Linked DNA regions of Homo sapiens: region 1 is reported to be linked to region 2. Evidence: microRNA targets listed by miRTarBase, many of them from high-throughput screens and not tested one by one. Region 2 holds a microRNA gene; the other region holds the end of a gene's coding sequence.
Evidence for each region. The annotated mature microRNA hsa-miR-2909 reads GUUAGGGCCAACAUCUCUUGG and lies in region 2 at 1,325-1,345, shown strand. An mRNA with a match to its seed (bases 2 to 7 or 8) in the 3' UTR can be bound and repressed. Matches are read on the target gene's strand: a 7mer-m8 pairs with bases 2 to 8, a 7mer-A1 pairs with bases 2 to 7 and ends in A, and an 8mer does both.

Region 1: miRTarBase lists RHOG as a target of hsa-miR-2909. Seed matches in the 3' UTR shown: 7mer-m8 at 1,298-1,304.

Annotation. Positions count from the first base shown.
Region 1 is chr11:3,824,983-3,828,391 of GRCh38, reverse strand. RHOG (ras homolog family member G) reads left to right here. Exons shown (of 2, transcript NM_001665.4): 2 at 186-1,414. The coding sequence starts at 254. The coding sequence ends at 829. PGAP2 (post-GPI attachment to proteins 2) reads right to left here. Exons shown (of 7, transcript NM_014489.4): 6 at 3,264-3,372; 7 at 2,021-3,064. The coding sequence ends at 2,934. Among named protein-coding and RNA genes, the nearest start is that of RHOG, 14 kb to the left of the region's middle.
Region 2 is chr17:37,032,424-37,035,832 of GRCh38, forward strand. It overlaps MIR2909 (microRNA 2909), which reads left to right and starts at 1,322; the gene lies at 1,322-1,390. The region is part of intron 11 of AATF (apoptosis antagonizing transcription factor); the gene reads left to right.

The DNA of each region.
Region 1 (3,409 bases), not on the chromosome of region 2:
ACTGCCTCTTTGCTTGGCCTCAGGGCCTTTCATTGTGTGTCTTTCTGATGACCGTCTTGATGGGACTTTGGGATAGTGTCAGGTTAAGGGAACAGGAGCCGGTTTCCCTTTGTGTGCCCCCATCTTTTCTTCCCAATAGGCAGAGGCCTCCCTAACCAAGAATGTCCCCTTTCATCTGTCCACAGGTCACTGCAGCCAGAGGGGTCCAGAAGAGAGAGGAGGCACTGCCTCCACTACAGCAACTGCACCCACGATGCAGAGCATCAAGTGCGTGGTGGTGGGTGATGGGGCTGTGGGCAAGACGTGCCTGCTCATCTGCTACACAACTAACGCTTTCCCCAAAGAGTACATCCCCACCGTGTTCGACAATTACAGCGCGCAGAGCGCAGTTGACGGGCGCACAGTGAACCTGAACCTGTGGGACACTGCGGGCCAGGAGGAGTATGACCGCCTCCGTACACTCTCCTACCCTCAGACCAACGTTTTCGTCATCTGTTTCTCCATTGCCAGTCCGCCGTCCTATGAGAACGTGCGGCACAAGTGGCATCCAGAGGTGTGCCACCACTGCCCTGATGTGCCCATCCTGCTGGTGGGCACCAAGAAGGACCTGAGAGCCCAGCCTGACACCCTACGGCGCCTCAAGGAGCAGGGCCAGGCGCCCATCACACCGCAGCAGGGCCAGGCACTGGCCAAGCAGATCCACGCTGTGCGCTACCTCGAATGCTCAGCCCTGCAACAGGATGGTGTCAAGGAAGTGTTCGCCGAGGCTGTCCGGGCTGTGCTCAACCCCACGCCGATCAAGCGTGGGCGGTCCTGCATCCTCTTGTGACCCTGGCACTTGGCTTGGAGGCTGCCCCTGCCCTCCCCCCACCAGTTGTGCCTTGGTGCCTTGTCCGCCTCAGCTGTGCCTTAAGGACTAATTCTGGCACCCCTTTCCAGGGGGTTCCCTGAATGCCTTTTTCTCTGAGTGCCTTTTTCTCCTTAAGGAGGCCTGCAGAGAAAGGGGCTTTGGGCTCTGCCCCCCTCTGCTTGGGAACACTGGGTATTCTCATGAGCTCATCCAAGCCAAGGTTGGACCCCTCCCCAAGAGGCCAACCCAGTGCCCCCTCCCATTTTCCGCTACTGACCAGTTCATCCAGCTTTCCACACAGTTGTTGCTGCCTATTGTGGTGCCGCCTCAGGTTAGGGGCTCTCAGCCATCTCTAACCTCTGCCCTCGCTGCTCTTGGAATTGCGCCCCCAAGATGCTCTCTCCCTTCTCCAATGAGGGAGCCACAGAATCCTGAGAAGGTGAATGTGCCCTAACCTGCTCCTCTGTGCCTAGGCCTTACGCATTTGCTGACTGACTCAGCCCCCATGCTTCTGGGGACCTTTCCTACCCCCATCAGCATCAATAAAACCTCCTGTCTCCAGTGGCCCCGGCTCCTCCCTGTGTGCTGGGCATTAGCGGGTGGGCATGGGCTAGGGCTCCCCAGAGACTGGGAGCCTTTTGTTTCTTCTAGTAGACAATAGGCTTCATTGTGGTCCCCTCACCCCTCAATTTCCCTAACAAAGCTCTAGGCTCCCTTGGAGGGGGCAGTCTTGCTCTGGGGCCCAGTCACAGATGCTGTAGTGGACTCAGACACAAAACCTGAGGAAAGACTTCTTGATCTTAGGGCTCAGAAAGGGAGAGGTTCAGAGCCATTAGTCTAAAGGCAGATGCTCCCACAGTCATGCATGTGACAGCTGTACCTCACATCCCCAAGAGGACAGCTTTAACAACAAGAGTTGGAATTTGAACCCAGGTCTCTGTCTCAACTGAAGACTTCCAGGTACCCTAGCTTGCAGTCCTAGAATCATTACAGATAGCTCACTCACTCCTGCTCACCAAAATAAAGGCTTAGACCAGCTTTAGGAGACTCCAGACCTAAGGGGGACTGGGGGGTTCTGCTAGGAATCATACCCTGCCGTGGACTTACTCCCTCCCCATTCTTGAGCCTGTTTCTCTCCCAGTTCCTATCAAACAAGATGAGCCCCAAGACTAGCAAGCCTAGGCAACTGTTGGCCCAAAAAAAAAATTTATTTTCCTTTCAAATAAAATGTACAACCAAAATTTAGGGTTTGGAGCAGTAGGGAAGACAGGAGATACCAGGGAGCCCATTTTACAGTAGAGATCTGCATCTGACCCCTCTATCCCATACCTTTGCAAAGGAGGGGAGGGGTCTACAAGCCAGAACTTTCAGAAGAGAAGAAAATACATGCTGTGCTGGTGCTGTTTCTGGAGCAGGTCATCCTTTAGGTATAGAACACCACCTCCACCCGATGACATCAGAACCACTGACTGGTAGAGTCCTTGGAAATCATACAGTCCACCCATCCCCCGCCAGACACATGGACACACCGAGGCTCAGATGGGGAAGGGTACATACCCTAGGGCACACACCAAATCAAAAAGGTGAAGTCAGGACTAGAACACCTGAGCAACTTTAGCAGGGGACTGTGGCCACAGGCCTGGATGTGCACAGTAGATCATGAAATACATTAGTCCTATGAATGACCCCCGTGCAGAGAAATGGCTGTGGTTGTCAGGGAGCAGCCACTGCTCAGGGGCTCCTGACCTCAGTGAAAGGTGACTGTGTAAAGGCCAGAAACTGGATGGTGGTCATGAACCTCAGGACGTTTTTTTTTTTAGCACCAAATGGTGGAGCTCTCTGCCAGCTCAGCTTCTTGGGGCCTCTCAGGTAAAGGTGATGTTTGAGGACCCCACGCCCATATGAGGGGTGGAGAGGAGAAGCCAGCAGCACTGGGGTGAGCCTTGGCCTACACCCTTCCTTCTTACCCTTCCCCCATCTTCAGTAAGGCCAAGAGAGGATGTGGGGTGGGGAAGGCCAGAATGGTATCGTGTTTCTTGTTTCTGGGCAGTGGGCTGCGTCCTCCCAAGCAGGACTGAAGGGTTCAGAATCGCTTTTCCTCAGGCTGAGAGGTTATGAGCAGCTCCTTGTTCCCGAAGTCCCACCAGGCCGTCATGTGGAACGCCATGTTGGTTAAGACAACAGTGTACTCCAGGATGGCAAAGATGGTGTACACTGTTGTGAGGACACAAGGAACAGGACATGGTGAACTTCCAGCTACCCGCTCAGAGGCCTCTTGATAAATCACACCACCATTGGTCTGCCACAGAGAACACAATGGCAGCCAGTCCCCAAGACCATTGCCCATTATCAAAAACATCATTGCTGCCCCGCAGCCACTCATGACCGCCTGTGGATCCTATCCTGGCCTCACCTCCAGCCTCACAATACATGTTGTGCCGAAAGTAGACAGCCAGCGCCGAGAAGAAGGAGATGAAGTTGATGATGAAGAGCCGCTGTTTCCAGCTGTAGGACTTGCGATCCTAGGGAATGGGCTGTCTGATCACTCTGCAGCTTGCT
Region 2 (3,409 bases):
TACTTTCTGGCACAAGAAGATGTTTAATGCTCATCTTAGACTTTCCATCTTCCAGCCCTGAAATCAGTCTTTCTTGAAGGAGCCCTGGCTCTGTTTAGTGGATTGTGGTATTTAGAAACCAAGATCTAGGTACTAGGGGTGCTCCTTGTTAGTGAGTATTGCTATTTCTAGACCTGTCAGCAGAGACGGGAAGTGTATGTATATACACTCACACCTACACAGAAGACAGCCACTTTTAACATCTTACAGCATTTCATTTCAGTTTTTGTAAGTTCCCTTTCAGTATTTTCCTGTTTTTCTTTTTTATATTGAAATTATATTCAGGAAATGTTTTATATACTGAGAGCATTTTCATGTCGTTAAAATAATTAAAATTTTTCAATGACGAAATAATATTGTTATAATATTTATTTAGCCATTCACTGATTGTTGGACATTTAAATGGCTTTTAATTGTCATCATTGTAAATAATGCTATGAGAAGCATTTTTAAACATATTTACCAAGTGAAATTATTGGTCATAACATAGGCACAGGTGGTTTTTGCCAGTTTTATCCCTCAAACTACATATAAACTTTTTATTTTAGAGTATTTTGTTTGCTACCAAATGCCATCAGATTTTCCCCTCCTTGTCTGAAAGTATGAGATCTGCAAATTTTGACAAATACTATTATTATTTTTTATTTGGTTTATTCAGTACTTTGAGCACAAAACAGCCTATGGATGGTTCTGAGTACATTTGTGTCTGGCTTTGTGACCACATCTGCTATCCTGTGCTTTGCAAGTGAATGTCTAGATATGGCCATGGTTTTTTGTTCATTTCTGGATCCAGTCTGTTTAAAAATTGCAGAGTAAAGTGAGTGCATCTTAGATTCCCTGTCAGGATGCTGTGAAAAAATTATATCAAGAAGAAAGCAAAACTAGATTTTGAAAATTAAACCAAACCCTTTAAGGTTACGTTATTATCCCAGGCATAAAATGAAATCTAGTTTAGATATTAGTGGTATCTTTTGATCATAGTACTATGAAATCATTCAGAAATCAACTTTATGCCATTCTTAGTTGGAATTTTACTTGAATCCCTTGAGGTGTACTTAGTTTTTCCAGAATCTTACCAATATTAACTCCTAATTTTTGAAGGTCTACTATTTGCTAGACATAAAAATTATTTGAAAATGACTCTATTAGGATTAATTTGGGTATGGCCTATAAAAAATATAAAACCTGACTACAGAGGCATAAGGAAATGGAAGTTCATCTTTGTGACAGGATAATTCTAGGGGTGGTAGGCAATTGTTGTCCATGGCTTTTGCTTCTCGGTGGTGTTAGGGCCAACATCTCTTGGTCTTTCCCCTGTGGTCCCAAGATGGCTGTTGCAACTTAACGCCATCAAACATGCATTCAAGGCAGGAAGAAGAGGAAAGAACTGTGCCAGCCATACCTGTTTGTTTTTAATCAGAAAAGTAAAACCTTCCCCAGAATTCCCTTCAGCAAACTTTTTGTATTTCATTGGCCAGAACTGTGTTATGTTGCCACTCCAGGTAGAGCAAGCAAGGGAGAAGGGGTTAGGAATGTGTTTGCTGGGTGACAGTCCTTGTGACATTTATAAGGAGAAAGGGCTATCCCTTGTGGACTGATTCCTAATTACCAGCATTGTTCTCCAGCTGGTTTAGCTACTTAAGGAATGGAATAATAGTCTTGTAGCTGGAGAACTGAACATTTGTTTTTACCAAAGTGCGCACCATTCTCATTGTGTTTCCTAAGGATAGGGAGACGTGTCCATATCAACTGCTCAAGCTTTATGGTTTGAATAGGCCAGATTAACTATGGGTACAGTAAATAGGAACTAGCTCTCTCTCCTAGTATCAAAATTTTTAGGGCCAGTAGGTATTGTTAACTTTATCTTAAGTAAGAAGGAAGTAGTAATAGCTTATCCTCCTTTGTTTTTTTTTAGTGGAAAAACAAAAGTGGAAGTAACCTAGTACCATTCTATTTTGTGTCCCATTTGTACACCACAAATAGGAAGCTTTCATAATTGTTAGAATATCAATATCACTGCATGCTACTTTTCCTCAAGTAAATACTTTTGGTTTTCCTAAGTTATACATATGTCATTCTTGGTGTGCCGGGGGCATAGAGAATTTTTTAAACTGATTTCAAGGTAGTGAAGGACTTTATAAGAATGACCACAGGGCCAGAAACTAAAAGGTAAAATATTAATAGACCTGACTACATAAAAGTCACATTGAAAAAGACATCAAAAACAAAGTTAATAGGTAAATGATGAACTTGAACAAAAAAATTCCAGCAGATGACATATTTTTCTACTATGTAAAGAGTTTTTACAAATGTCTAAGAATATCCCAATAACAATAATGGACACAGCATATCAACAAGAAGACTTAAAAATCAAAAAAGAAGGTCGGGCACAGTGGCTCACACCTGTAATCCCAGCACTTTGGGAGGCTGAGGCGGGCGGATCACGAGGTCAGGAGATCAAGACCATCCTGGCTAACACGGTGAAACCCCTTTTCTACTAAAAATACAAAAAATTAGCCGGGCGTGGTGGTGGGCGCCTGTAGTCCCAGCTACTGGGAGGCTGAGGCAGGAGAATGGCGTGAACCCAGGAGGCGGAGCTTGCAGTGAGCCGAGATCGTGCCACTGCACTCCAGCCTGGGCGACAGAATGAGACTCCATTTAAAAAAAAAAAATCAAAAAAGAAAAATTTCAAGGGCCAAAAACCATAAGCACTTTCAACCTAATCAAAGAAATGCAAATTAATATAATGAGATTTCTTTTTATTATTTTTTTTTGAGACAGAGTTTTGCTCTGTCACCCAGGCTGGAGAGCCATGGCACTATTTGGGCTCACTGCAACCTCCGCCTCCTGGGTTCAAGCGATTCTCCTGCCTCAGCCTCCCGAGTAGCTGGGACTACAGGCGTGCACCACCATGCACACACGCCCTCCTTTTTGTTGTCCTTATTCAGTTGGAAAATATTAAAAGGATTAGTAATACCCAGTGTTGATGGTGTAAGGAAAAATGCACCTTTGCATACTGTTTTTGGAAATGTAATTGGCAAAATCTTTTGGGAGGATTATTTGACATTGTGTTTCCAACTTTTTTTTTTTTTTTGAGATGGAGTCTTGCTCTGTTGCCCAGGCAAGAGTGCAGTGGTGCAATCTTGGCTCACTGCAATCTCCACCTCCTAGGTTCAGCAATTCTCCTGCCTCAGCCTCCCATTGGTCAGTCTGACCTCAGGTGATTTACCTGCCTCGGCCTCCCAAAGTGCTAGGATTACTGGCGTGAGCCACCATGCCTGGCCCTGTTTCTGACTTTTAAATGTGTCTGTTAACACAGAAAAATCTACTTGTAGGAGATAGTCTTTAATAGTTGCCAAATACATTTGTG